Linked DNA regions of Homo sapiens: region 2 is linked to region 1. Evidence: fine-mapped expression QTL. A gene starts in region 1. The other region holds a variant in brackets. All regions are shown on one strand. Distances are between the middles of the regions.

Region 1 (2,906 bases):
CAGGATGAAGTCCAGGCATGCAAACCCCTTCTTAGTCTCTCTCTGCAGACTCCTTTCCCACTGCCTCCAAACCAAAACCATCTTCTCCAGGCTCATGGACTCCTTTCTGTGCCTGCACACGCCCTGCACTGTCCCGTCTCTCTGCGCCTTTGCCCAGGCACTCCTCCCTCCCTGAAAGCACCACCGGTCTAGCTGGGCCTGAAATCCTAGCCTTCCCTAAAAGCCCGGCTCAAATCACAGAGGCGCAGAGCATCAGGCCAGGAGGGGTGGACAGCGGTACCAAGAGGCCCCCTGACACTCCTTCCCCCGGAGCCCACCGCAAGCTTCCACCTGGGCGCCAGCACTCACCCCTTTCTGTTTTGCACGATTATTGCCCGCGTACCTGCCTGCCTGGTCCTTGAACACACAGCCACTGTGTGTCTTTTCACACTTTCCAGCTGGGTAAGCCTGGGCAAGTTAAGTTCTCTAGGCCCCGGGTTTTTCTTTTGTATGACAGAGATTAACACCAGTACCCATCCCACAGGCTTGCTGTGAGGACAGACTAACGCCTCAACAGGGCTTGTGGAAGTGCGTGGCTCTATATTCCCTTCCGCGCCGACCCCGGGAAGCTGGGCACGTAGTGGGAGTCGGTGTATGCGGATTCGAAGCCGGACACCTCCCAGGTGCCACCAGGCCGCTGCGGGGGAGATGGAGAGGGACCTACAGGCCGAGCGCCAGGCAGAGAAAGGAGCCGCGGGTGGGGGGGCACCCAGAAGGAGGGGACAGCGGCTGGGGCGGGGGCAGGAAGCCCCGGAGGGCCCAAAGAACTTGGCGTGGGGCGGCCCGGGGCGGGGACAACCGTTCCGCCAGCGCTCGGGTTCGGCTCGGAGTGGGGGCCCGGCCGACGGGCGCAGTAGGCCCCGGCGGACCCCGCGCCCCATTCGCGGGAGCCCCAGGCCCGGTGGTCCGGCCCGGACCCCGGAACCCCTCCCCAGGGCCTGCGGCGCCGTGTGCCGGGGCCGGGCCGCCTGGGGCCCCCAGGCCGCGAGTCCCTGCGCGCGCGGGTCGCCCTTACCGGAGCCGCGACCGCCTCGGCCATGGCCCTGCGCTGTCCCGCCCGGCCCGGAGGAAGTCGTCGTCGCCGCCGCCGCGCGCGGCACCACGCAGGCCCGGCCGCCCGGTGCTCTCCGCAGGCGGCGCCTGCCTGGCCTTTCCTCTGCCGCCGCTCCTCGCTGGCTGCCCCTGCGCCGCGCCGCCCGCAGTCGCGCCGCCTCCGTCAGCGCCCGGCCGGTCCACACTGCATCCTGGGAGCCGGCGCCGCGGCCCGGCAGACGAAGGCCCGTGAGGCTTCCTGGAGGCAGCGCGGCCGCACAGCCCCACCTGCAGCCTGAGAGGCGAACGGCAGGCGCTGCGCCCGCCTGCCCGCGGCCCCGCCCCGCCCCGCCCAGCCCCGCCCGCGGGGCCCGACGGGAGGACCTAGCGACCCCGGGCCGACCCCGCGACCCCGCGACCCCGCGACCCCGGCCGGACTGCCGAGCGCGGGGGGAGTCACTGCGCTGGCCCCGCGGCCCAGCCCGAGGACTCGGTTATTGAAAGGGTCCCCCTCATGGGACCCGCCTGGCCGCGCCCGCGGGCGAGCACGGGCTTCCGGGCAGGGCGTCCCCCGGGTGACCGCGGCCAGGGCGGCCCCCTCGCCCTGGGATGCCCGGCTCCCCTTCCCCCGCCCCACGGGCACTTCTGCTGCCCGAGGTCCTGGGTCTGGAGGTTTAGGCTATTTTGGGGAGGACAGATGTAACTCATGCCCACCTGTGTTTGAAATGGAATAAATACTTCCAACAACAGGAATATAGTTCGGTAAACCCCGGTAGGCAACCACTTAGCATTTTCTGTAATGGGTTTATTACAGTAAATTTTTTTAATGGCATGAGCAATGGGACGCAATACCATCATTTAAAATGATTTCGGTGAAGGTCTTGGTAGGAACAGATGTTCATGATGTTTTAAGAGAAAAAGCCTGTCCAGGACGATCCTGTCTTTGTTTTAAAAATAACATTTTAAAACAATATAGGACATATGTAGCGTCATATACTGCGTACATGTATAATTACAGTTTTGAAAAGTTTGGAAGCATATATATCAACATGGCCTCAGTAGTTCTATTAAAGGTCTATTCCTTTAATAGACCACGGGCCGTTTTTATGCCTTTTCTAATTTTTTCCAATTCATGTTTTTATTTTTCCATGACAAGGATAGTATTTTTAAACAAGGAGAGAAAAATAAAAATTTAAATGTTCTCAAAGAGGCCAACCAGAGCAGGGGAAGGAGGGCGCCTTGGACGGGCCCCCACGTAGTTTCAGAGGCTCATTGCCTTTCAGGAACACGACTTGCTCATCTGTGTATTCCCCAAGACTAACTAGCCAACTGCCTAGCACACACTGATAAGAAAATATGTGAGAGATCTGTAATCTTTTTCAAAGAAGGCAGACCTTACAGAATAGATAAAATTTGAGCTGGATCTTGAAGAATTGGCAAAATATTGATAGGCAGAGAGCATTTCAGACCAGAGGGTGGTAGTAGAGGTGTGAGCTGGATGACAGCCCAAAAAAAAATTGATGTAGGAAGATATAAAGCATTTTAGGGCCGGGCGCAGTGGCTCACGCCCGTAATTCTAACACTTTGGGAGGCCAAGATGGGTGGATTGCCTGAGCTCAGGAGTTTGATACCAGCCTGAGCAACATGACAAAACCCCGTCTCTACTAAAAATAGAAAAAATTAGCGAGGCGTGGTGGCACGCACCTGTAATCCCAACTACTGGGGAGGCTGAGGTACGAGAATCGCTTGAACCCGGGAGGCAGAGGTTGCAGTGAGTGGAGATCACACCACTGGGTGACAGAAATACAGTGCATTAGAAATAAAGAGACATTTTT
Region 2 (2,906 bases), 99 kb after region 1:
CCTTAGCATATTTCACCTGTGTTGCCACACCCAAGGATTCTACAGTGCACTATAAATTGTATTCATTCCCAGCCAGCTTATGGAAACTGGCAACTCTACCACAACTGACTAGAGACCGCCCTTCTGGTCATGAGTTCACCCCTCCATTTCCCAGAGACCCTTCACTGGTCTAATGGTACTTTCCTACTCTGTAGCCACAACCTGAACTCCTTCAACTATCTCCTCCCATTCCCTTACTCAGTACCTGATGGGAATAGGGGATGAGGGTTGGGGGAGAGGCAGGTGTAAGAATCAAGGCTGTATTAGTCAGCTATTTCCACAACAATGTGTCACAACAAATCATCCCAAAATTAGGCTGTATGAAACCATAAGCATGTCTCGTGCTGATAGGTCAGCAGCATGGATGCCAATCAGCTGATGTAGGCTGGGTCTGCTTCAAGCTGTGGGTCCATCTGTGCTTGGTTTCTGTCTGAGCCGGGCTCAAGTTTGCTCCATGTGTGTTCCTTCCACAATCCCAGCTGGAGGAGTAGCAGCTAGCAAGGGGACACTCTTCTGGTGGTGACAGCAGAAATGCAAAGGGGGAGGCCCAACTATGCAAGCAGCTTTCAAGCCTCTGTTTGCATCACATGTGCTAACATCTCATTGATCAAATCAAGTCAGAGAAGCAAGCCCTAACTCAAGAGCAGGGAAGCATGTTCCACCTCTAGTGGGAAGATCTGCAAAGTCTCATGGTGAAGGTCACAGATGCAAAAATAAGTGAAGATCCAGGGCCACTTCCAAGTGGTTCACTTGTGCCTTGTAACCCCTGAGCCCCCAAGGCCGGTTGTTTCCTGCTTGCCTTCAAATGGAGGGATTAATCTGATCAGGCCCAACTGCCCTGCTTGCTTTTTGTTGTTATTATTTCCCTATTTCCACGAAGCTGAAGGCCACCGTACCTGAAAGCCTCAATGCTCAATGCAGAAACTTAACTTTCATGGGAGGCTTTATAGAACTTACGTAGGTCACATGGTGATGGTCACTTCAGTTGTTTTTCAGGCACTTGGGCCAGCTCCTGTCCAGCTAAAACTGGTTTAGACAACTGACTCTTCAACTGGTCTGAGCAAGTGCCTGAGAGGTGGCCTTTTGATATAAGAGGGCCAAAAATCTCACCCTCAAATCATGCTAATGCCACAATTTTCTGTGGATATGTCCTGTGAAATGTCATGGCATGTACCTGGAGTCCCAGCTATAGAGCAGGCTAAGGTGGGATGGCTTGAGGCTGTAGTGAGCTATGATCATGCCACTGCATTTCAGCCTGCGTGACAGAGCAACACCTTGTCTCAAAAGAAAAAAAAGAGAAGGAAGAAGGGAAGGAGGGAGGGAGTGAAAGAAGGGAAAGAAAGAGAAATAGAGAAATGCCTTTGGTCTTTGATGTTGGTAACCTTCAGATGGGGTTTTTGTGTGGTCGTCCTTTTCGTTTATTTGATGCTATTGCTTTCTGTTTGTTAGTTTTCCTTCTAACAGTCAGGCCCCTCTTCTGCAGGTCTGCTAAGAGTTTGCTGGTGGTCCACTCCAGACACTGTTTTCCTGGGTATCACCAGCAGAGGCTGCAGAACAGCAAAGACTGCTGACTGCTCCTTCCTCTGGAAGCTTCGTCTCAGAGGGGCACACGCCAGATGCCAGCCAGCGCTCTCCTACATGAGGTGTCTGTTGATCCCTGCTGGGAG[G/T]TGTCTCCCCATCAGGAGGCACGGGGGTCAGGAACCCACTTGAGGAGGCAGTCTGTCCCTTAGCAGAGCTTGAGCACTGTGCTGGGAGATCCACTGCTCTCTTCAGAGCCGGCAGGCAGAAAAGTTTAAGTCTGATGAAGCTGTGCCCACAGCCACCCCTTTCCCCCAGGTGCTCTGTCCCAGGGATATGGGAGTTTTATCTACAAGGCCCTGAATGAGGCTACTGCCTTTCTTTCAGAGATACCCTGCCCAGAGAGGAGGAATCTAGAAAGGCAGTCTGGCTACGGAGGCTTTGTGGCGCTGTGGTGGGCTCCAACCAGTCCAAACTTCTGATAAATTATAAAAATATATGTAACGTTAAAAACAGCCATGCACTGGGAATGGAGGTGTAGTTCAGGGTAGAGCTTTCCACACTAGCAGCGGAGTTTTCTGGCCAAAACCTGGAGGAGCTGTGTGGTCCTCATGCTATGTTGTCTCCATGATGCTTCCCAGGACTACTCTCTGATCCATGTCAGGGCCTAGGAACTCCCCCAACTTCACCAAGTCTTTCATGAACTGGATTTAATGCAAAGATCCCAGACTGAGAGATATCTATATATGTCAGTACTGCATGTGTCTCAATTTGTGTCTCCAAACTGCTATTTTGTAGTGTAAACAAGAAGACATCAAACATGGAGACCTAAAGGCTGTTCCAGCAGTAAACGGAAACACTCCTCTCAGCTGCTCCTGTCACCACGGACTGAGGGAAAGCGGGGAGATTGTGCAGGCATGTGAGCAGGGGCCAGGGTTTGGCAACTGGGGATGGACTTTTCTGGGGTGAGTTTGTGGTAAAATCAGTTGCTGGTCTTACTCTCTAAAAGTAAGCAGGAACTTTCAATGTGCTGTAGGACTCCTGGGTGCGATTACCAACATGAAAAGTGGTTATTAGACACTTATGACAAGCAGGGCGTATAGCTCAGGGGTAGAGCATTTGACTGCAGATCAAGAGGTCCCCAGTTCAAATCTGGGTGCCCCCTACTGCACTTTTTCTATTCATACAAGCTGTTATATTCTTCACAGAAGCTGTTGGTCACATTCCAGTTTCTTTTCATCCATTCCACCTATGATTTTCCCTGGAACTGGAAGCTACAGCTCAGGCCTACCCAGCTGCAACCTGGCTGGATAACTTCTCCCAGCACCAGTTCCACGGGTATCCCTCAT

What was found. PIP is the estimated chance that this variant, and not a neighbour inherited with it, causes the effect.
Region 2: its variant is fine-mapped to the expression of ZNF746 in whole blood (TOPMed, PIP 0.96).

The regions. Positions count from the first base shown.
Region 1 is chr7:149,496,459-149,499,364 of GRCh38, forward strand. It overlaps ZNF746 (zinc finger protein 746), which reads right to left and starts at 1,351. Exons shown (of 7, transcript NM_001394198.1): 1 at 1,055-1,351. The coding sequence starts at 1,078. RefSeq lists an enhancer at 1-612 and silencers at 746-805, 1,046-1,715.
Region 2 is chr7:149,595,305-149,598,210 of GRCh38, forward strand. TRC-GCA20-1 (tRNA-Cys (anticodon GCA) 20-1) reads left to right here and starts at 2,651; the gene lies at 2,651-2,722. It also overlaps the pseudogene ZNF767P. The variant G/T (reference allele first, on the strand shown) is at 1,707.